Linked DNA regions of Homo sapiens. The gene in region 3 interacts genetically with the main gene of each other region. Each region holds a gene or a part of one and is shown on either strand. Other genes may lie near its edges. The genes, in order: UBAC1, THOC2, FBXW7, LSM2, MYO9B, TOP2A and RPS24.

The links.
Region 1: changes in FBXW7 (region 3) and UBAC1 are lethal when combined (synthetic lethality), as found in Homo sapiens cells (one study listed by BioGRID).
Region 2: changes in FBXW7 (region 3) and THOC2 together harm fitness more than expected from each alone (negative genetic interaction), as found in Homo sapiens cells (one large-scale study listed by BioGRID).
Region 4: changes in FBXW7 (region 3) and LSM2 together harm fitness more than expected from each alone (negative genetic interaction), as found in Homo sapiens cells (one large-scale study listed by BioGRID).
Region 5: changes in FBXW7 (region 3) and MYO9B together harm fitness more than expected from each alone (negative genetic interaction), as found in Homo sapiens cells (one large-scale study listed by BioGRID).
Region 6: changes in FBXW7 (region 3) and TOP2A together harm fitness more than expected from each alone (negative genetic interaction), as found in Homo sapiens cells (one large-scale study listed by BioGRID).
Region 7: changes in FBXW7 (region 3) and RPS24 together harm fitness more than expected from each alone (negative genetic interaction), as found in Homo sapiens cells (one large-scale study listed by BioGRID).

The regions. Positions count from the first base shown.
Region 1 is NC_000009.12:135,937,374-135,940,873, reverse strand, and holds part of UBAC1 (ubiquitin-associated domain-containing protein 1), read left to right. Parts: intron 1-1,114; coding exon 1,115-1,201; intron 1,202-2,513; coding exon 2,514-2,652; intron 2,653-3,500.
Region 2 is NC_000023.11:123,723,053-123,726,552, reverse strand, and holds part of THOC2 (THO complex subunit 2), read left to right. Parts: intron 1-3,500. UniProt on the Homo sapiens protein: Component of the THO subcomplex of the TREX complex which is thought to couple mRNA transcription, processing and nuclear export, and which specifically associates with spliced mRNA and not with unspliced pre-mRNA.
Region 3 is NC_000004.12:152,323,093-152,326,592, forward strand, and holds part of FBXW7 (F-box/WD repeat-containing protein 7), read right to left. Parts: intron 3,140-3,500; coding exon 2,914-3,139; intron 1,303-2,913; coding exon 1,092-1,302; intron 58-1,091; coding exon 1-57. UniProt on the Homo sapiens protein: Substrate recognition component of a SCF (SKP1-CUL1-F-box protein) E3 ubiquitin-protein ligase complex which mediates the ubiquitination and subsequent proteasomal degradation of target proteins.
Region 4 is NC_000006.12:31,796,967-31,800,466, reverse strand, and holds the end of LSM2 (U6 snRNA-associated Sm-like protein LSm2), read left to right. Parts: intron 1-1,959; coding exon 1,960-1,990; intron 1,991-2,417; coding exon 2,418-2,477; intron 2,478-2,584; coding exon 2,585-2,710; 3' UTR 2,711-3,071; downstream 3,072-3,500. UniProt on the Homo sapiens protein: Plays a role in pre-mRNA splicing as component of the U4/U6-U5 tri-snRNP complex that is involved in spliceosome assembly, and as component of the precatalytic spliceosome (spliceosome B complex).
Region 5 is NC_000019.10:17,190,777-17,194,276, forward strand, and holds part of MYO9B (unconventional myosin-IXb), read left to right. Parts: intron 1-320; coding exon 321-443; intron 444-1,969; coding exon 1,970-2,286; intron 2,287-3,500. UniProt on the Homo sapiens protein: Myosins are actin-based motor molecules with ATPase activity. Unconventional myosins serve in intracellular movements. Binds actin with high affinity both in the absence and presence of ATP and its mechanochemical activity is inhibited by calcium ions.
Region 6 is NC_000017.11:40,411,397-40,414,896, reverse strand, and holds part of TOP2A (DNA topoisomerase 2-alpha), read left to right. Parts: intron 1-1,271; coding exon 1,272-1,417; intron 1,418-1,604; coding exon 1,605-1,702; intron 1,703-1,925; coding exon 1,926-2,138; intron 2,139-3,078; coding exon 3,079-3,252; intron 3,253-3,441; coding exon 3,442-3,500. UniProt on the Homo sapiens protein: Key decatenating enzyme that alters DNA topology by binding to two double-stranded DNA molecules, generating a double-stranded break in one of the strands, passing the intact strand through the broken strand, and religating the broken strand.
Region 7 is NC_000010.11:78,036,863-78,039,029, forward strand, and holds part of RPS24 (small ribosomal subunit protein eS24), read left to right. Parts: intron 1-331; coding exon 332-442; intron 443-576; coding exon of another isoform or gene 577-579; intron 580-1,102; coding exon of another isoform or gene 1,103-1,108; exon of another isoform or gene 1,109-1,120; intron 1,121-2,167. UniProt on the Homo sapiens protein: Component of the small ribosomal subunit. The ribosome is a large ribonucleoprotein complex responsible for the synthesis of proteins in the cell. Required for processing of pre-rRNA and maturation of 40S ribosomal subunits.

The DNA.
Region 1 (3,500 bases), on a different chromosome or scaffold from region 3:
AGGACTCTGGGGGCTTCAAGAGAGTGGGATCTGACCTTTCAGGGATTAGGAGAGGCCCTTGAAATTTTGATGAAGCCTTCATCTTACTTATTTATATTTTTTCAAAATGGACCCCTTTAAACATTGTGGTATAAATCTCCAGAGTAGAGGATGTATTATCTTGTTACATGAATTGTGTCCAGAAAATGTATGTCCTTCCCCAAAAACGAATTAGCATATGTTCAGTTGTAGCTTAAGTTTTGTTCAATATTAAAAGTTAAAAAATTAGTTTTAGGATTTTTTTTTTTTTTTTTTGAGATGGAGTCTCGCTCTGTCGCCCAGGCTGCAGTGCAGTGGCGCGATCTTGGCTCACTGCAAGCTCCGCCTTCCAGGTTCATGCCATTCTCCTGCCTCAGCCTCCCGAGTAGCTGGGACTACAGGCGCCTGCCACCACGCCCAGCTAATTTTTTTGTATTTTTAGTAGAGACGGGGTTTCACCGTGTTAGCCAAGATGGTCTTGATCTCCTGACCTGGTGATCCGCCTGCCTCGGCCTCCCAAAGTGCTGGGATTACAGGTGTGAGCCACCGCGCCCGGCCCTAGGATTTTTTTTTTTCTAAGATAAAATCTGAATAAAACCTTTTTTCACAGGTTACAATGGCATTTTTGTTTCCGTTGAGATTGCACTTACTGACGTGGCCTTTCCCTAATGCCACTTCTCTTTGGGTAACAAGGCCCTCTGGGGTAAACCTGCGGTGGCTGCCGAGACAGTCTTATCCACACAGTCATCGGGACAAACCTGAAAGGGTCTGAAGTTGGCCTGACTGCCTCGTGTCCACATAAGCGATGCGTTTCTACCTGTCACAACCTGTGGCTCCCTGAAGACAAGCCTGGGAGCTGCACTGCCCCCCGGCTCTGCTAACTACAGTCATCCCTGCACTTCCTCGGCTTTAGGATGCTGAAAACCAAGATCTGTTTTAGCAGAGCTGTGAGGAAAGAACGTGGACGGACAGCGTCCTCAGTGCTGTTGGGAGCACCCTCCGCTAGGGTGCGGGGAGCGGGCCCCTCTGCACGCAGGTCACTGGTTCCTCGGCCTCCTGCCGCCCCCAGCGAGCTAACGGCTGTGCTGTCCTCTAGGCCGTCATTTCCCTGATGGAGATGGGGTTCGACGAGAAAGAGGTGATAGATGCCCTCAGAGTGAACAACAACCAGCAGAATGCCGCGGTGAGTGTTGGGCTGTGGTGAGTGAGTGTGGGCTGTGGTGAGTGAGTGTGGGCTGTGGTAAGTGTGGGCTGTGGTGAGTGAGTGTGGGCTGTGGTGAGTGAGTGTGGGCTGTGGTGAGTGTGGGCTGTGGTGAGTGAGTGGGGGCTGTGATGAGTGAGTGTGGGCTGAGTGAGTGTGGGCTGTGGTGAGTGAGTGTGGGCTGTGAGTGTGGGCTGTGGTGAGTGAGTGTGTCAGGCTGGGCGAGTGCTGGGAGCCTCACTCGTGAGCGCCCCGGGCGTGGTGGAGGCCGTGTGTTTGCCTACTTTCACATGCAGCCGGCTATGTGGCTTTTAAAGTGAGACAATTGGATAGATGGCTCAAACAGTATAAAAATTTAAAAATACGGAATTCTAGGTTTTTAAAAGGGTGCCTTATATGTACATATTTTATGGATGGGTAATTTGTTCATTTTTTTTTTTTTTTAATTTTTTTGGAGTCAGGGTCTCACTCTGTCCCCCAGGCTGGAGTGCAGCGGTGTGATCACACTCACTGCAGCCTCGACCTCCTGGGCCCAAGCGATCCTCCTGCCTCAGCCTCCTGAGTAGCTGGGACCACAGGCATGCACCACTATGCCCGGCTAATTAGTTTTTTAGAGACAAGATCTCCCTTTGTTGCCCAGGCTGATCTTGAACTCCTGGCTTCAATCGATCCTCCTGCTTTGGCTTCCAAAGTGCTGGGATTACATGCATGAGCCACCACTCCCAGCCCATTTTTCTGATTAAACTGACTCAAGAATGATTCCCGTCCTGTGCCCGTGTGCCAGCTGGGCTGATGGAGCTGTGCCTGGGGAGGTCCCTGTGGTGGCCCACATCCCCCCCCCACCATCCCCCGTGCCAGTGGAGTTCGTGGCTCACACCTCCAAGACAGAGATGAGGAGCCTGTGTCCTCATGGCTCCAGCACTGCTGACTGCCCATAACAGGACCACAGGCAAGCTGGGCACTTGGTACATTTGTTAATCACCTTCCCAACACTCCTGGGTGGGCCACACTGGCCCAGGTAAGTGGGGAAGCGGCAGCAGTCAGTGATCCCTGCGACACCAGGGTCTGCAGAGAAAAGCGGACTAGCTCTTCCTTCTCTGGCCTGGTCTGACACGCACGGCAGTGAATCCAGACTGCGTTTGTCTTCACGGTAGAGTCCCTTCCAGGGAGATCAGCCCTGGGGGCTCAACAGGAACTCACAGAAAGGTGCAGGAGCTGTCATGCCTGCTGCTGGTGGCGTCTTGCGGAGGCACTGAAGGCGCTAACAGTGGTATTGGTGCTCTTGGCTTTGCAGTGCGAGTGGCTGCTGGGGGACCGGAAGCCCTCTCCGGAGGAGCTGGACAAGGGCATCGACCCCGACAGTCCTCTCTTTCAGGCCATCCTGGATAACCCGGTGGTGCAGCTGGGCCTGACCAACCCGAAAACATTGCTAGGTATGTGCGCCTTCTTTATGCTAAGTCTCGGGTCGGGGAGGCTGGCTGGTTCCCTTGCAGGACAAATAGGTGCTGCGGAGGCGATACGGAGGATCCAGCGCTGAGGATCGCCGTGCGCTGGCAGCACGTCCTGCCATGCAGGTTGGCATCCTGCGGGTGTAGTCCCGCTACGTCACTGTGGGGCCCGCAGGTCAGGTTCTGATCGTGGTGTGACTGTCTCCTGCGCGATGACCCTGACATAGGCCTCAGAAAACCAGTGCCAGTGGCTTTCCGAGGGCCAGCGGGGTGGAGACTGCGCCAGCAGCTTAGGAACTCACGGGAGGACAAGGTGTGGTTTGGGCTTTTGCTCTTACTACTCGTCAGGGTCTTCGATGGCAATGGTTTATTTTTATTGTGAGATACGTACATACAAAAGTGTATATGATGATGTAACTTTAAAGAAGAATAAAACTAATAGCCATGTATCTACTATTCAGCTTTGGGCCTGGGGTGCCCCTCCCCTATGCACCTCATCCCTCCCTCCGGTGTGGCCGTCGCCGTGGCCGCGGCTTACCTCTCTGCTTCCCGGTAGAGTTTTGCCGTATTTGTGTCTCCTTAAACAATCTCTCATTTGCTGCTGCCTTTGTGTAAGTAGAATCATGTTTTAAGCAGGCCTCTGTGACTGACTGCGTTCTTTGTGGGGGTTGTGGAGTATTTTCTTGATGGAAGGCACTGGGAACCCAGGGCTCGTTGGGTTGTCTACATGTGGTGCCACTCCTGATTTTTTTTTTTTTTTTTTTTTGAGACAGAGTCTCGCCTTGTCACCCAGGCTGGAGTGCAATGGCATGATCTCGGCCCACTGCAACCTC
Region 2 (3,500 bases), on a different chromosome or scaffold from region 3:
AGTGCATTGTTATAAGGAGAAGTTTTTTTTTTTTTTTTTTGAGACAGGGTCTCACTCTGTTGCCCAGGCTGGAGTGCAGTGGCACGATCTTGGCTCACTGCAGCCTTGACCTCCTGGGCTCAAGTGAATAAGGAGGAATTTTAAACAATTATTTTATTTCTCTTTCTTTCTCATCCTTTCCTTTTCCTTTCCTCTTTTTCTTTTTTCTCTTTTTCTATATGAAGGAATATTTGAAATTGCATTTTAGTAGCCCGAGTACAAAGGGAAAGATGAGTTACTTTATTCTGTTAAATTCTTCTTTCAAAGACATGGTGCTTCCTGCTATTATTATTATTATTTTTTTTGAGACAGAGTCTCACTCTGTCGCCCAGGCTGGAGTGCAGTGGTGCGATCTCGACCCACTACAACCTCCGCTTCCTGGGTTCAGGTGATTCTCCTGCCTCAGCTTCCTGAGTAGCTGGGATTACAGGCATTGGCCACCAAGCCCGGCTAATTTTTGTAGTTTTAGTAGAGACGGGGTTTCACCATATTGGCTAGGCTAGTCTCAAACTCTTGACCTCAAGTAATCTGCCCTCCTCGGCCTCTTAAAAGTGCTGGGATTATAGGTGTGAGCCACGGTGCCTGGCCCCTGCTATTATATTCTAAAGAGAATTGACCCTATAAGGGAAATGAGAACCCAAAGAGGGAATTGTTTTAATACTTCATAGTAAATATTGAAGCAACCTTGATATACTTATATATCTCCTCTCCACAAAAGACCTAGATGGCATTTTTAGGTTATATCTTCTGATGCTAGTCTGAAGCAGATGTTATTTCTGTGTTGCCTGGTGGAAGGAAGATTGATTTTGTTTTATATTCCAGATAAACTTATGTTAGGTTTAACGTATTTTGTGAAATTAGAAGCTTAATCGTGGTTTTTTTTTTTTTTTTTTTTTTGAGATAGGGTCTCACTCTGTTCCCCAGGCTGCCCAGGCTGGAGTGCAGTGGTACTACGATCACCACTCACTGCAGCCTCGACCTGCAGGCTCAAGTGATCCTCCCAGCTCAACCTCCCAAGTAGCTGGGATTATAGGCATGTGCCACCACACTTGGCTACTTTTTTTTTCTATTTTTTTTTTTTTTTTGTAGAGATGGGGTCTCACTTGTTGGCTAGGCTGGCTAGGCTGGTCTTGTACTCCTGTGCTCAAGTGATCCTCCCACTTCGGCCTCCCAAAGTGTTGGGATTACAGGCATGAGCCAGCATATCCAACTTTAACCAGTGTTCTTAACCAACCACTGTTCTCTTCTCAACCCATTAGAAGGCCTGTCTAGTTCTCCAGGGAAGTAGTTGAAAGTACTTGGGATCAAACTTAAACCAGCTTACCATTTGTAAGGTACTCTCAGAATAATTTTTTTAGTGAGAAATGTTTAATAGCTAAATGACATTTTCTTTCTTTGTTTTTGTTTTTGAGATGGGATCTTGCTCTGTCACCCTGGAGTGCAGGCTGGAGTGCAGTGGTGCGATCATGGCTCACTGGTGTGATCTTGGCTCACTGCAGTCTCAACTTCCTGGGCTCTGGCGATCCTCCCACCTCAGCCTCCTGAGTAGCTGGGCCCACAGGCGCGTGCTACCATGCTCTGCTAATTGTTTGTGTTTTTGGTAGAGACAGGGTTTCACCACGTTACGAGGCTGGTCTTGAACTCCTGAGCTCAGGTGATATTACCAGGCTGGTCTCGAACTCCTGAGCTCAAGTGATTCACCCACCTTGGCCTCCCAAAGTGCTGGGATTACAGACGTGAGCTACTATGCCTGGCCTGACATTTTCAAACTAAATATTTAATTTAGTAGATGCTCTCCATTGCCCTTATTTTTTATTTTTATTTTTTCTGAGACAGAGTCTCGCTCTGTTGCCCAGGTTGGAGTGCGGTGATGCAGTCTTGGCTCACTGCAACCTCTGCCTCCTGGGTTCATGCGATTCTCCTGCCTCAGCCTGTAGAGTAGCTGGGATTACAGGTGCGCACCACTGCGTCCAGCTAATTTTTGTATTTTTAGTGGAGACGAGGTTTCATCATGTTGGCCAGGCTGGTCTCAAACTCTTGACCTCAACTGATCCACCCACCTTAGCCTCCCAGAGTTCTGGGACTACAGGTGTGAGCTACAGTGCCCGGCTTCCATTGCCTTTTTATTTTTTGGTTTTGAACATATTTGTGAAACCTAGAAGTGAATTGTTGACCAGCAAAAGTTTACTCTGTTGACTTTTAATAACCTTACCCTGCTCATCCTGATGATAGGGTATTGACATAATCAGAAGGCACAGAGGTGAGCTGCAAGGTTATGTATAATCTGCAAAGTAGATAATCTCTCTGTGGATGATTGTAATCTGGCATCTTATTTAGCCTTAGATGTGATATATAAGCAGGTTCTGTAAGTCTTAAAATTATTTGTTTCATTGACTAGAAAAAGGATTACTAGATATAAAAGAGTAAGAAACTCTTCTATATGAATTCATTGGCTCTCTTTAAAGCCTTGTGCAACATGGAAGAATTTTTTTCTAAATTGTGAAATGTAATGAAAATACAGAGAAGTCATGAAACCTCAATATAGAGCTTAAAATAATCACTGTAAGATGCACCCCCATGTAACTTACACCCAGGTCAAGGCAACATACTGTTTGTTCCCGATCAAACCTTTCCCACCTCTCATGTAGTAAACATTATCCTGACATTTATGGTTTTCCTCTTGATTTTTCTCTTTTTTTAACCTTGCATCTTCAACTCAAAGAAACTTTCTTGATTTTCTTTGCAGTGTCATTACCCAATATGTTTAATTTTTTTCTTGAACTTCATATAAATGAAATCATTGAATATTTATCCTACTGTTTCTGGCTGCTTTTGTTCAACAGTTATGACTTTTAAGATTCATCCATATTGTATGTTTGCAGTTCATTGATTTTCCTTTTTTTTTTAGTTCATTCATTTTCATAGTTGCAAGATACTCCATCGTATACCAGTATTTGTTTATTTTTATGCTGTCTTGTTAAACATTTTTGTTGCGTCTAGTTTTTGGCTATTACTAACAGTGCCAATAGAAACATTATTATACAACAGTTTTGGTGTATACAAGCATGTGTTTTTGTGGAGTATATACTAGGTGTAGAATCTCTGGGTTATAGGTTACACTTTAGCTCTGTTAGATATTGCCAGGCTATTTCAGTGTACACTCCCACCAGCAGTGTATGAGTTGACCTTGTTTCACATTGTCACTATGTTTGATATTGTCAGACTTAAATTTTTTGTAAATATGTATGTAATTTTACTGTGGCTTATATTTCCATGAGCATCTTTTTATATGTTATTGGTCATTTGGAGTACTTCTTTTTTTTTGTTTGTTTGAGACAGAGTCTTGCTCTGTCGCCTAGTTTGGAGTGCGGTGGTGGCGTGATCTTGGCTCACTGCAACCTCTGCCTCCCGAGTTCAAGCGATTCTTGTGCCTCAGCCTCCTGAGTAGCTGGGATTACAGG
Region 3 (3,500 bases):
TTACAAAGTTCTTGTTGAACTGTAAACAGGTCACAGCACTCTGATGCTTGTTGGGACCTAGACAAAAACCAAAAGAATTTAATTACTGGTTAGAAATAATGGCTATGAGTTAGTTACATTATAATTTGTAGACTTCTACTTTAGAACATACAATAAATGCAACATTTGAAATGATACATATTTAGAAACCCATGTCCTCAGTATTTTAGGATCAGCATGGATGTAAGAAAATCTGGTAGTGATTTGTAACTGAAACATTAACTTTCAAGAGGTCTGTCTTCCAAGAAGCTTGGTTAGCTACCAGACAAACATCTTATTTTCTGGCTGTGTGAACGACAGCATTCCTTGGTGAGGATGTAGATAGTGCAACTTCATACCTTCTGCTGATGGACAAATGAGCACTAAGAGATCTATTACCCCACCACCATGAACCACTCAAAGCTGAACAGTCACTATTCCAAAACTCTGAGGAGAGACAAAACCAATGAGTAAAAAGCTGCAATGTTGCCTATCAGATGGCCCCACTGAAAAAAACACTTTCTAAGGGCTATAACAAATAGAAAAAGTTAATCATGAGGCACTGCTGTACCTCATCTAATATTAGTGATTTTCACTTGTTTCTTTCTCTACTTTAGTAGGCACTATTATTCCTCTCCATTCCAGTTAAGCACGTGACTAAGTGGAGGCCAAATAAATTTTCTATCAAGGATGCTGTTGTTTTTTTCAATAAGGTAGCCCTTTAAAATTGGACTACAAATTCAAAATGCAATGGTCAATCAAAAAATATAATGAGTACGTTGCTTCTATGATATAGCCAAGATCTTTCTTCTCACTGTTCTTAAAGGTTAAGTAGAGTCAATTGAACATGCAGGAAGTGATTAAACAATTTTATATTACATATTAAAAACACAGTTTAAAACATTTCCTCAAGAGTAGACTAGTTCTGTAAGTCAGGGTGAAAATATTCATAAACTTTTCTGAAGTAACCATTCTGTATGAGGTTGACTCTTTTTGTGATGCTAAGGCTCCATATTTCTCTTGAATAATGATCTCATTTTTAATGAACAAAACGAAAGGTGAGTAAGACTTACCTTGCAATGTTTGTAAACACTGTCCTGTTTTGATATCCCAGATTTTAACTGTAGAATCTGCATTCCCAGAGACAAGAATATTGTCTTTGAGTTCCATTCCACTTGTTAACGACTGGTGCCCTGTTAACGTGTGAATGCAATTCCCTGTCTCCACATCCCAAACACGGATTGATGTATCAAGAGATCCACTCACCACATGGATACCATCAAACTACAAAAGACACAGTTTATTAGAATAGAAGTATGGATACTCTTCCTATCAATTACTGACCTTAATCCTAGTAGGAAAGGGGGAAGAGGATGGGAAACAGGTAATGCCAGGAACAAAATGAGGTACTAAGATAAAGTGGCAATGAGGATAAAGTGCATGCCATCAAGCAACTCTACAATGTATGTTCTCACACACTTCTATCAGAAAGGCTCATCTTTATGCCAAGCAGCTTCAAACTAGATGCAGAAACAACTTAAAATGAAAACAAAGCACCTAAAATGAACAATATGTTAATTTTCAAATCATCTGGCCCCACCTAGCTATATATCATGGATGACTGAGAGAATTGCTATGAGTTTTACTTCCCACTAGGAAGCTGAGACTAATGACATAGCTTATGATAAACGGAATGCTTATCAGCACCTAAGGCATGAAAAGGGCTAGAGATAACTTTCGTGATGTTCAAAAGTAAGTTCCATTAAAAACTGTGTGTAAAATAAAATTTCATTTATAAGAACCTAATGCTAATTAGGAAATGTGCCAAAAGATAATTGTATCTGGAATCAGAAGAGGTGGCATTTTGAAATCAAAAGCAAACTACATACTACCTCTTCTCCAGCTTCCCAGCTACACCAAAAGTCAATAACAGTCTATCATTTCTAAACAATAATGTGGCTACCTCTTTTCTCAATCAAACAGTTTATTTAAATTAGAATATTATATTCATTAAGCTTCTGAACATATCAGAAACAGGTGCAGCCAATTCCCCTTCCTCCAAATTCATCACCTTTTCTAATTTAGCAAACATTTTTATCATATTGTCAATATTTCATGACATGGACAATATCCCTTTGACAAAGAAACAAATATCCTAAGAACAGAATTGACAGTACTAAGATTATGTACTAATTTGCTGAACATTAATGGGTAATAACTGGTAAATAAACTATATAAGCTATAGGAAATATTTTTACATTAAAAATGTTGCCTTTCTGGAAATAAAACAAGATTCATATTCTAAACTTCCTATTCATCTAGTTAATGATCTCAAAATATGGCAATGTTTTCAAGGATATGGGCTTGAAATATAAACCAAAAAAAAGAAATCGGTTTAGTCAACTTTACTTCTTTATGACTACAAATCAGTGGGCCTGGGACAGTAGAGTGCTTTATGCAGAAAGGATCTATTTCCACTTTGAATGGGGATGGAATCACAATTACATGGTCCATCAACTTTCAGCTATCAAAGCAAAGGGGCAGCTTTTGGCCATATTAATCTTCTGCAAAGGAGTTTCTTAAAATCCAGGTTACTCTCCTATGAGACTATTTAACCATTAATTAACATAGCAAAACTTAGAGCCCCAAAGTGTCAGGTTGCAAAACAAATATTTGTATTTAGAGGAGAAATAGATCACAGAAAATTGAAAGCATTTAAATAATTTTGAAATTTACACTTTCTTCATGCCAATTTTAACGTATATAAAAACAGCAGAATAATCTGATTAATCTTTTTTGGACTGTACTGGATCAGCAATTTGACAGTGATTATCTGAGTAAAACAACCTTATGATTCATCAGGAGAGCATTTAAGGGAGAGATAAGAGATCTTACCTGTAATGAATAGACTCTATTAGTATGCCCCTGCAACGTGTGTAGACAGGTTTCAGTCTCTGGATCCCACACCTTTACCATAAAATCATATGCTCCACTAACAACCCTCCTGCCATCATATTGAACACAGCGGACTGCTGCAACATGACCCATCAAAACATGTAAACACTGGCCTGTCTCAATATCCCAAACCCTAAGAGTGGCATCTCGAGAACCGCTAACAACTCTGCAGAGGGAGAAACAGAAAAACAAAACAAAACAAAAAAACCCACGTTTAGAATTTTTAATAATATGAGAAAACATGGTAGATTTAGTCAAGGTTTTTTAGCTTTTTTTTTTTTTTTTTTACACAGCAACAACCATTTTCAAAAGAAATCCTATGTAAAACCTTGGTATATAAACATAATAAGGGAATGGGAAGTTGGGAAGCCTAGAATGCTGCATGCTTGGTTCCCTGACCTGGGGACCTTAGGTTCAGCACCTTAAGGTTCTGTGGGACTGAGTTTGAAAACCACTGTACTGTATTTTTTAAAAAGCAGCAGAAGCTGCCTCTAAATATATACAATAAGATTTTGATTTTAGAAATA
Region 4 (3,500 bases), on a different chromosome or scaffold from region 3:
CGCTGGGTTTTAAAGACTTTCAGAATTTTACAAAAATTGGGGCAGAGAACTGCCAACTTTATTTTTGGCAAGATAAGGACGTTTTTAAAACTGCTATTTATTACGATTATTTTTATTTATTTATTTTTCTTGAGATGGAGTCTCACTCTGTCACCCAGGCTGGAGTGCAGTGGCTCGATCTCGCCTCACTACAACCTCCACCTCCCGGGTTCAAGTGATTCTCCTGCTTCAGCCTCCCGAGTAGCTGGGATTACAGGCGTCTGCCACTATGCCCAGCTAATTTTTTGTATTTTTAGTAGAGATGGGGTTTCACGATGTTGGCCAGGCTGGTGTCGAACTCCTGACCTCGTGATTCGCCCGCCTCGTCCTCCCTAAGTGCTGGAATTATAGGCGTGAGCCACCGTGCCCGGCCACAGTTATTTTATTTTATAACTTTAAAATAGAGATGAGGTCTTGCTATGTTGTCTGGGCTGTTCTCCAGCTGGCTTCAGGCGATCCTCCTGCCTCAGCCTCCCAGAATGCTTGGATTATAGGCGTGAACAACCATTCCCAGCCAAAGGCTGTTTTTTTAAATTTTTGCACCATTCTCTCAAAGAGCACTGGTGTTTTGATAGCATTCCTCAAATAGCATTTCAAGGGGCTCGAGGATTGGGGAATGGAGAGGACATCACTCATGCCTGCATCATCAAGAGTAATGCTACCTACCTTTATCCACATATGGGCTCTGGTTCCAAAGCAATAAATGTTTGAAAATAGCTAGCCTGGGTGACATTCACAGTGAGACCCTTTCTCTACAAAAAAAAAAAAAAAAAGTCGGGAATGGTGGCTCATGCCTGTAATCCCAGCACTTTGGGAGGCTGAGGTGGGCAGATCATGAGGTCAGGAGATCGAGACCATCCTGGCTAACACGGTGAAACCCCGTCTCTACTAAAAATACAAAAAATTAGCCAGGAGTGGTGGCCGGCATCTGTAGTCCCAGCTACTCGGGAGGCTGAGGCAGGAGAATGGCGTGAACCTGGGAGATGGAGCTTTCAGTGAGCCGAGATTGTGCCACTGCACTCCAGACTGGCCGACAGAGCGAGACTCCATCTCAAAAAAAAATCAGCTGGGCATGGTGGCTCAAGCCTGTAATCACAGCTACTCAAGTGGCCACAGTGAGCCATGATCACGCCATTTCACTCCAGCCTTGGCCATAGAGTGAGACCCTGTCGCAAAAATAAAAAAAAAATAGCTGATGGTTTTGGGAGTCACACAGACTTGGACTGAAGTTCCCATTTGTTCTAAACTCATAAAGTTTAAAACAACCTCTCTGAGCCCCTGGAAGGTAATAACTACTTTGAAAGATGGCTGTAAAGATTACAAATACTATATAGAATACAGGTCTAGCCTTTACCAGTTGTTTAATGGTAGCTGTTAAGAATAGGTTGGTTTGGCCGGGGACAGTGGTTCACACCTGTAATCCCAGCACTTTGGGGAGCTGAAGTGGGCAGATCGCCTGAGATCAGGAGTTAAGGAACAGCCTGGCCAACATGGTGAAACCCCATCTCTACTAAAAATAAAAAATTAGCCGGGCATGATGGCATGCGCCTGAAGTCCTAGCTACTCAGGAGACTGAGGCAGGAGAATCGCTTGAACCTGGGAGGCAGAGGTTGCAGTGAGCCAAGATCACACCACTGCACTTCAGCCTGGCTGACAGTGAGACTCCATCTCAAAAAAAAAAAAAAAAAAAAAAAGAATGGATTGGTTTAGGGAGAGGAGATGTGGGGTTGAAAATAAACTACTCTGTTAGTTGTCTTTCCTACTCCAGGGCTTAGGAATGCCCCCTTTTGGTTCTACCTTTTCTGACATCCTCAAGTCCTTGACTTCTCCCAGTCATGTTCTCATCCCAGCTCTGAAGTCACCTCTATGTTGACTTTGTTATAAACTAATTTGATTCTTCTCTCCCTCTGCCCTTGACAGCATCTGTGGAACCCTCCATTCTGTGGATCAGGTGAGATATAGCACGGGCCCCAGAATTGGTTCCTGGAGAAGGAGAGGGGAGACTTAAGGGTTGGGTTCTTACATCATGTCTCTAGGGTTAATAATGGTGTTCGTCGGCCAGGCACGGTGGCTCACGCCTGTAATCCCAGCACTTTGAGAGGCCGAGGCCTGAGGTCAGGAGTTCAAGACAAGCCTGACAAACATGGTGAAACCCCGTCTCTACTAAAAATACAAAAAATTAGCTGGGCGTGGTGGTGGGCACCTGTAATCCCAGCTAGTCGAGAGGCTGAGGCAGGAAAATCATTTGAACCCAGGAGGCGGAGATTGCAGTGAGCCGAGATGGCACCATTGCACTCCAGCCTGGGCAACAAGAGCAAAACTCTTGTCTCAAAAAAAAAAAAATAATAATAATAATGGTGTTCATCTTCCTTTCCTAGTATCTCAACATCAAACTAACTGACATCAGTGTCACAGACCCTGAGAAATACCCTCACATGGTGAGTTGGGGTCTGTGGAGAAGAGGAAACACCTCTAAAGCAGGAGGCCCCTGGGTGGTTAGAGGACATTTTTAAGGGTGTTTTCATATTTGTCCATCTTTGTCTAGTTATCAGTGAAGAACTGCTTCATTCGGGGCTCAGTGGTCCGATACGTGCAGCTGCCAGCAGATGAGGTCGACACACAGTTGCTACAGGATGCGGCAAGGAAGGAAGCCCTGCAGCAGAAACAGTGATGGCTCCTCCTCCTCTTCCCCTCCCTCTTTCATTGGTGACCCATAACCCCAAGTCCCAGCCCAGAACCCCTAACCCCCAATACTTGAAGGGGTTTTGTTTTTTTACTAATGATGGTTTTGTGGGTTTTTTTTAAGGGATGAGTGGATGAGAGGAGTAATAGGGAACAGCTATCCTCTCTTGAGAAGGGGAGGATAAGTAGGCTGGGAAACTTCAAAGCCTTCCCAGTCCCCAGCACCTGCCTTTCTCACTACTTCTCTGGAGATGGTAGGAGAGTTTCCTAGGTCTTTCCAGGGCAGCATGTGATTCATTTGGGGATGGAAGGAATCTGTCCCGCATCGGGAATAAAATTTATGATGCAAATTTGTGTTTTGGTTCTGTTACTATGTGTTGGGCAGGGGGCTGGGACATGGAAAAGGATGTCGAATTCATCCAAGCCCCTGTTACTCTGCGTTAACCCAGCCAAGAATCCAACTCAGCTTCCCACTACTCTCCTTGGTATAAAGCATATAATACAGTTGCTCTACACCATGTTTCCCCAACATGTCCCTACCTGTATGTTCTCCCTGTGGCCTTTTGCTTATACCATACCTGCAACTGGAGTGCTTGCTGTCCTTCCATTAATGTGATAGTGTCATAAGATACATTTCATGCTACCAGACTTCACCAATCCAACCAAATCAGTTCATGTTTTCTGAATATGTATAGAAGATAAATACAAGTGATGTAATTTATATTTTAGAGAAAAGTTGTGACTGGGAATTACTAAACTTCATTCACTCATTCAGCAAA
Region 5 (3,500 bases), on a different chromosome or scaffold from region 3:
GCCTCCCAAGTAGCTGGGACTACAGGTGTCTGCCACCATGCCCGGCTAAGTAGAGATGGGGTTTCACCATGTTGGCCAAGCTGGTCTCGAACTCCTGACCTCAGGTGATCCACACACCTCGGCCTCCCAAAGTGCTGGGAGTACAGGTGTGAGCCACCACACCCGGCCCAGACTATTTCTGAAAGCCTGAAATTTTAGATTTGTCATTACCATTCCTGTCAAACCCAGCTTCACCTTAACCAGGGTCACCAGATCTCTGTCTCCTCATCGCTGGCCAGAACACTCACCTAGATTTTCCTTTCTCCACCCAAATAACCTAGGATTTCACCGAGCAGTTCCAGGTGCTCCTGCCCAAGGATGCCCAGCCCTGCAGGGAGGTCATCTCCACCCTCCTGGAGAAAATGAAGATAGACAAGAGGAACTACCAGATCGGGAAGACCAAGGTCAGCGCTCCTGCCCCTCGGGGCACTACAAACCCACACCCTGCCTTCCACCGCACACCGTGTCTCCCCAGGCCCCCAGGGCCACTCTCTGAAACATACAGGGCTCTGTCTAGGAAATGCATTTCTCGGGACCCAGCAGAGCACTGCACCTAAGGGATAGGGGCCGCCCTGGCTGAGCCCCACCTGCTGTTCTTCAGCAGGGCTCAGCGACTCCCTCCGCGTCACCTGTTTATTGCTGCCTCACAGGTAGGAAAGGGACGATCGTGCTAACTGGCAGGATTTAGGAGATGGTCAGTCCCCTTTACGGTATGAGGCAGGAGGTGGCCTGCACTTGTCCTCCCTTTCAGAGACTGTCTCCCATCTCTGGGCATGTGTTTGCCTCTTGCTATGGGAGCATTACTCAGCCACCCTTGTTTAACAAGCGCCAAGGTCAGTCCCCCTGAAGGCCTCACCTGGTGTAAAAAATTCCCTTCCAGCCAAGCGAGGTGGCATGCACGCAGAGTCCCAGCTACTTGAAAGGCTGAGGTGGGAGGATCCCTTGAGCCCAGGAGTTTGAGACCAGCCTGGGAAACATAGCGAGACCCCATCTCTATACAATATTTAAAAATTAGCCAAGCGTGGTGGCATGCACCTGTGGTCTCAACTGCTTGGCAGGCTGAGGCAGGAGTTTGAGACTGCAGTGAGCCCTGATTGCACCACTGCACTTCAGCCTGGGTGACCGAGCGAGATCTCATTTCTTTTTTCTTTTTTGTTTTTATTTTTGAGACAGAGTCTTGCTCTGTTGCCCAGACAGGTGGTGTGATCTCAGCTCACTGCAACCTCCGTCTCCCAGGTTCAACTGGTTCTCCTGCCTCAGCCTCCAAGCAGCTGGGATTACAGGTGCCCGCCACCACACCTGACTAATTTTTGTATTTTTAGTAGAGACAGGGTTTTATTACAGGCACACACCTGTAGTCCCAGCTACTCGGGAGGCTTAGGCAGAAGAATCGCTTGAAACCGGGAGGCGGAGGTTGCAGTGAGCTGAGATCGGGCCACTGCACTCCAGCCTGGTGAGACTCCATCTCAAAAAAAAAAAAAAAAAGGGGGGGCCACAGCCAGGTGCAGTGGCTCATGCCTGTAATCCCAGCATTTTTGGGAGGCCAAGGCGGGCAGATCACTTGAGGTTGGGAGTTCGAGACCAGCCTGGCCAACATGGTGAAACCCTGTCTGTACTAAAAATACAAAAATTAGCCAGGCCTGGTGATGGGCACCTGTAGTCCCAGCTACTCGGGAGGCTGAGGCAGGAGAATCACTTCAACCCAGTAGGCGGAGGTTGCAGTGAGCCGAGATCATGCCACTGCACTCCAGCCTGGGCGACAGAGTGAGACTCCATCTCAAAAAAATAATAAATAAATAAATAAATAAAGCCCTGGTTGGTCAGCACACCAGCCTAGGTCTCACTCTGGAGTGGGCTATGCAGACCTCCCAGGCACAGAGATGGTGTCAGGGGCAGTGCAGCTGACCCCACCTGACCCCGTGCCCACCAGGTCTTCCTGAAGGAGACGGAGCGGCAAGCCCTGCAGGAGACGCTGCACCGGGAGGTGGTGCGGAAAATCCTGCTGCTGCAGAGCTGGTTCCGGATGGTGCTGGAGCGTCGGCACTTCCTGCAGATGAAGCGGGCCGCCGTCACCATCCAGGCCTGCTGGCGGTCCTACCGGGTCCGGAGGGCGCTGGAGAGGACGCAGGCTGCCGTGTACCTCCAGGCCTCATGGAGGGGCTACTGGCAGCGGAAGCTCTACCGGCACCAGAAACAGAGCATCATCCGCCTGCAGAGCCTGTGTCGGGGGCACCTGCAGCGCAAGAGGTGAGCAGAGCCGGGCCACGCTCCTCGGAATATTCCAGAAGCCAAAAAGGTCACTCACCAAATTGCTGCCCGTGATATACCATCTGGCCTGTGGCACTAAGGGGATGTCATTCTGGACACAGGGAAAGGCTGGTGGGAAACCAGATGCCTAGGCACTCATGGGCTGCAGAGAAGTGCTCCAAGGCTGGCAGGCAGCACTCAGGGACAAAGCCCTGCTTTGCCATTGGCTGCACCCATTCTCTGCCCAGGGACTCCCCTGTACCTGGATCGGTCAGGGAACACCTGGATTCAGGGTTGGAGGGGCTGCCTGGACCAGCCCAACACTCACATGGAGCTGGGGCATCCACCGGGCACAGAGAAGCCCCCAGGAGGATATCAGCAGCTCCCGTCCCAGCACCCACAGCTCCGAGCCCAGCCCCTCCCCGACCTAGGCACCCTGTTCACCTCTCCCCTGCCCACACAGACCCAGCTCTGCCACAAGTCAGGTCCCAGCTCCCGGAGCAGGCCCTACCCACACATGCAAAAGCCTCCTAGGCCAGGTGCAATGGCTCATGCCTGTAATCCCAACACTTTGGGAGGCCTAGATGGGAAGATCGCTTGAGCACAGGAGTTCAAGACCAGCCTGGCCAATATAGCAAGATGCCATCTCTACACAAAATTAAAGACTTAGCCAGGTGTGGTGGTACACACCTGTAGTCCCAGCTATTCAGGAAGCTGAGGTGGGAGGATCACCTGGGCCTGGGATGTCGAGGCTGCAGTGAGCTATGATCACACCACTGCACTCCAGCCTAAGTGACAGAGCCAGACACTGTCTCTAAAAGCAAAACAGGCTGGGCATAGTGGCTCACACCTGTAAGGCCAGCACTTTGGGAGGCCAAGGCAGGCAGATCACATGAGGCCAGGAGTTGGAGACCAGCCTAGCCAACATGGCAAAACCCCATCTTACGAAAAATACAAAAATTTGCCGGGCTTGGTGGTGCATGTCTATAATCTCAGTTACTAGGGAGGCTGAGACACAAGAATCACTTGAACCCGGGAGGCAGAGGTCGCAGCAAGCCAAGATCGTGCCACTGCATTCCAGCCTGGACAACAGAGCGAGACTCTGTCTCAAAAATAAAATAAAATAAAATAAAATAAAAGCAAAACAAAAAGCCTCCTAGAAAAAGACCCAAGGGAAAGCCCACAGTGGACCCCAAAGGAGTTTGAGGCTTCTT
Region 6 (3,500 bases), on a different chromosome or scaffold from region 3:
TTATGATTGATATTGGTTTTCCTTTTTTTTTTTTTTTTTTTTGATGGAGTTTTGCTCTTATTGCCCAGTCTGGAGTGCAGTGGCATGATCTCGGCTCACCGCAACATCCACCTCCTGGGTTCAAGCAATTCTCCTGCCTCAGCCTCCAGAGTAGCTGGGATTACAGGCGCACACCACCACACCTGGCTAATTTTGTATTTTTTTTAGTAGAGATGGGGTTTCTGCATGTTGGTCAGGCTGGTCTCGAACTCCTGACCTCAAGTGATCTGCCTGCCTTAGCCTCCCAAAGTGCTGGGATTGCTGGGATTACAGGCGTGAGCCACTGCGCCCAGCCTGTTTTTATGTACTTTGTTGAGTGGGAACGAGATGTATAGATGATCCTCTTGAAAGGGGTATAATAGGCATGATGACTCACTCCTGTAATCCCAGCACTTTGGGAGGCCAAGGTGGGAGGATCAGTTGAGCCCAGGAGTAGTTTGAGACCAGCCTGGGCCATATAGTGAGACCCTCATCTCTACAAAAAATTTAAAAATTAGCCAGGTGTGGTGATGGACACCTGTAGTCCCAGCTATTCAGGAGGCTGAAGTGGGAGGATTGCTTGAGCCCAGGAGGTCAAGACTGCAGTAAGCTGTGATCCTGCCATTACACTGCAGCCTGGGTGACAGAGCGAGATGCTGTCTCAAAAAAGGAGTGGGAGTGGTGTATAATAATGTTTCCAGATTGTCCTTTTCTTTCCATTGGGCATAAATCATTTCCCTCTGTTTATCCTAACATTTTAAAATTTTGTATTTTTTCAACATTATCAGTGTCTATTCAGGTGTTGGAAAAGGTTTTTTTTTCCTCTTGACTCCTATTTCAGGAATGTCAGGAACTAAGCATGGTGGGAAATGTTCCTGCTGAATTTCAGAAGGTATATATGAAAAGTGCCAAAAAAATTGAGGGCTGGGTATGGTGGCTCACATCTATAACCCCAACACTTTGAGCAGTTCTCCTGCTTCAGCCTCCCAAGTAGCTGGAATCACAGGCATGCGCTACCATGCCTGGCTAATTTTTTTTATTTTTAGTAGAGACGGTTTCAACATGTTGGCCAGAACTCCTGGCCTCAAGTGATCTGCCCTCCTCAGCCTCCCAAAGTGCTGGGATTACAGGCACAGGCCACCGCGCCCAGCCTGAATATACATATTTTAGAAATAATAGTATTTAAATATTTTTAAATGTTAAGCATTCGTTTAATGTGTTGTAAAATACAATTTTCAATCTTTTTTTCTTAGGGAAAACAATTTAATTAGTATATGGAATAATGGAAAAGGTATTCCTGTTGTTGAACACAAAGTTGAAAAGATGTATGTCCCAGCTCTCATATTTGGACAGCTCCTAACTTCTAGTAACTATGATGATGATGAAAAGAAAGTGACAGGTAGAGTATTGAGGGGAAATAACATATTTGTTGCTAAAAATATATATATTTAAATGACTGTCTGTGGCATGAGGGTTAAAGATATGGAAATAAATCTCTATAATTGAATAGCTCTGCCAGTGATTAAGAAATAAAGCTGTCAATGAGATAGTAACAATAAAATAGTGTTTCATATTTATTTGCCCAGGTGGTCGAAATGGCTATGGAGCCAAATTGTGTAACATATTCAGTACCAAATTTACTGTGGAAACAGCCAGTAGAGAATACAAGAAAATGTTCAAACAGGCAAGTAAATAAGTGTCTTGTACCTTAATGATAAATGGTAGTAGTATAGCCATTTATAATGGCATTAATGATTGGTTTAATTTAACATAATTTATAAGCTATTGAAGTATGGAAAATTATAAGCATATATATTAGGTTATTAGGACTCATAAATTTATGTTATTTACTTCCAGTTTGTGAGATGACTTGAATTTTTCATGTTTCCTATTCTTTACTTCCATAGACATGGATGGATAATATGGGAAGAGCTGGTGAGATGGAACTCAAGCCCTTCAATGGAGAAGATTATACATGTATCACCTTTCAGCCTGATTTGTCTAAGTTTAAAATGCAAAGCCTGGACAAAGATATTGTTGCACTAATGGTCAGAAGAGCATATGATATTGCTGGATCCACCAAAGATGTCAAAGTCTTTCTTAATGGAAATAAACTGCCAGTGAGTATTTTCCTGGATGTTAAGGATAATAAGGGATTTTGTAATCATTGTCAAGTGCAAAATTGAATTTTTTCCCCTCCCATATGTTTTTGTTTGTTTGTTTGTTTGTTTGTTTGAGACAGAGTCTCACACTGTTGCCCGGGCTGGAGTGCAGTGGCACGATCTCGGCTCACCGCAACCTCCACCTCCCAGGTTCACGCAATTCTCCTGCCTCAGCCTCCCAAGTAGCTGGGATTACAGGTGCCTGCCACCACACCTGGCTAATTTTTTGTATTTTTAGTAGAGACAGGTTTCACTATGTTGGCCAGGCTGGTCTCGAACACCAGACCTCATGATCCACCCGTCTTGGCCTCCCAAAGTGCTGGGATTACAGGCATGAGCCACTGCACCTGGCCCAACCATATGTATTTTCTTACCACTTCTCACATATGTTCTTGAAAAGAGAATGGTATGCCACATTTTTTAATCAGCTCATTTTAAACTTACCGAAGGAATTTCTTTCTCAAAGAAACACCTAAAATAAATATTTCATGTCCTTTTTTTATTTTCCTTTTTCTTTCTTTTCTTGATAACCTCGCTGTGTCACCCAGGCTGGAGTACAGTGATGCAATCACGGCTCACTACAGCCTGGACCTCCCAGGCTCAAGCGATCATCCCACCTCAGCTTCTGGAGTAGCTGGAAATGCAGGCAGCACCACCATGCCCAGCTAATTTTTTTTTTTCTTTTTAATAGAGGTGGGGATCTCACTATGTTGCCCAGGGTGGTCTTGAACTCCTGGGCTCAAGTGATCCACCCACCTCGGCCTGTGTCCTTTAATGACCATTCCCTTATGCCTATCAGTGAACATCATTGCATTGGTTTTGGAAAGTCCTCATAGTCTATCATTGAACCTATTTTTTAATAACTTTCTTAATACTGTTACCTTTAATTCCTGTACAGGTAAAAGGATTTCGTAGTTATGTGGACATGTATTTGAAGGACAAGTTGGATGAAACTGGTAACTCCTTGAAAGTAATACATGAACAAGTAAACCACAGGTGGGAAGTGTGTTTAACTATGAGTGAAAAAGGCTTTCAGCAAATTAGCTTTGTCAACAGCATTGCTACATCCAAGGTAATTTTATTCTTAAATTATTAATCATGATTTATCTTTACATATATGTGTTCTTATTGTTTTTAATATATAAAGTGGACTTGAATATTGGGCTAGCTTAGTATAAAGGAGGTTAAATTAGTTTTTAATGTTTGATTATTATAATTTTGAGGATACTGAGTTTTACAGTTTGGTATTTTTCCTTATTAGGGTGGCAGACATGTTGATTATGTAGCTGATCAGATTGTGACTAAACTTGTTGATGTTGT
Region 7 (2,167 bases), on a different chromosome or scaffold from region 3:
CAGCCACTTCGGAGGTGCCTTGTTTTGGTAGTGCAAAAGAAGAAAAAATAGTGATCTGTGAGCTCAAGTCTGGACAAGAACAGCCAGTCTCCCAAACTCCCTGTTGAGAGAATGTTGAGTGGACCATTTGTTTCCTGTGAGGCTATTCCATACCTAAAATCCCTTGATGATCCTTTCTGTTCCAGCAAAAACATGCATTAAATGTACTTGAAAAGTTTTGGTTTAGAAAGCTGTGTTTCTTAAGCTCAGACTGGGTCAGTTTCCCTACCAGAGTGGTGGGTAATGATTTTAATGTTTACAAGTCACCTGGATGTACTCTTTTCTCATTCAGCATGGCCTGTATGAGAAGAAAAAGACCTCAAGAAAGCAACGAAAGGAACGCAAGAACAGAATGAAGAAAGTCAGGGGGACTGCAAAGGCCAATGTTGGTGCTGGCAAAAAGGTATAGTTCATTAAGGAAAATATAGAAACGTCATTAATTGTAGGTCTTTAGTTTCTAGGAAAGAAGGGATCTTATTAATTTTTAAAATAACTTTTCTTAATGTTTCTTCTTTTCCCTCTTCTTCTGGATTACAGAAGGTAACATGTTTTAAGAAACTATGTAGCATAGTGTCTTAACACCTCAGTAAAGTAGCTTGGCCCACCCCTTGTCAGCTCACAGCACAATCTGGAGGCCACATTGGTTCATTGATCCCAGCTGGTGGGCACCTTTCAAGCCTATCACAAGAAGTTTTAATTTTACTAATTGGCATAGAACCTTCAATGCAGAGCGGATCCCATTCCCTGTGATTTTACTTATTAATATGGACACTGGTTTAAGAAGCAGTTGGATCAATGTGGCCCGTGTTTTCCTGGCACACTGGAAAGGCAACTGAGATCTCAGGATTGCTTTCCTCTCCAGTTGGCCAAGACAAGTGATTTTAGCGATAAGCAGCTTTTTACCAGCTTTGCTAGCTGTAAATAGTTGGACATTGTAAATCATTGAATAGAATTAAGGTGTTGGGTTGTTAAATTAACAAATAATCAAGTGTTCTGTGAACTTTTTTTTTTTTTTTTTTTTTTTGCTTTTCCTCTCTACTTTCTTGGATTTCTTGTTCATCAGAAATGAAGTGTCTAGCAGGTACTGAGATTGTAAGCACGGTGTGGGGATGCATCACCTTCACTGAGTTTGCTTTGATGATGCTTTGCATGTTGGCCTTTGGACGACAGTTTTATAGTATGGTCGATTATAATGCCAGTGCTATTTAGGCTGGTGCAAAAGTAATTGCAGTGGCAAAAACCACAATTACTTTTGCACCAACCTAATATGTTTTAAGATAGTATATTATGAGCAAAGGAGAAAACGTTTAAAATCATGTTTATTTTGTAAACTCCAAAATGCATGTTACATGTGAAGTGACTCACTGGAGGAAGGTGAGTACTTTACCAAGTAGGCACTTGGGAAATGCTGTGTCCACATACTTAGGAAATGGCTTCAGTTAACACTGGGCTTGGGAAGGGCTCTCTTATCCAAGGAGCAGTCTTCTCTGGAGCCATGAAACCAGCCTGGCAGCACTGGTAATAAACTAGTCTGTGAAATCTGGCAAAGCCTCTGTCCTGTTTGGATATACGCAAAACTGCCTTTTACCATTTCCATTGCTTTTTATTACTTAATCTCCCAACTTTGTGCCTGGTGTCTTTTTTTTTTTTTTTAAAATAGAAAATTTTTGAGGTAATTATGTATTCATATAAAAGTCTTTGGTGGATATGCTTTTTCCCACAAGCACTTGGTTAGAATGGCCCATTACCTCATTTGTTTATTTTTTGAGACAGGGTCTCTTGTCACCCAGGCTGGAGTACAGTGGCATGATCATGGGTTACTGTACCTCCCGGGCTTGGGTGATTCTCCCACCTCAGCCTCCCTTGTAGCTGCGACTACAGGCATGTGCCACCGTGCCCTGCCAATTTTTTGTAGAGACAGGATTTAGCCGTGTTGCTCAGGCTGCTCTTGAACTCCCGGACTTGAGCAGTCTGCTTGTCTAAGCCTTCCAAAGTGCTGGGATTACAGGTGTGAGCCACTGTGCCCAGCCTGTTACCTCATTTAAAACAAATTTTGCACATCTGAACAGCCTAAAATTGTAATGTGATAAGTGGGGTAGGAGTGGGGTGGGCGTAGTGGGATTTTGAA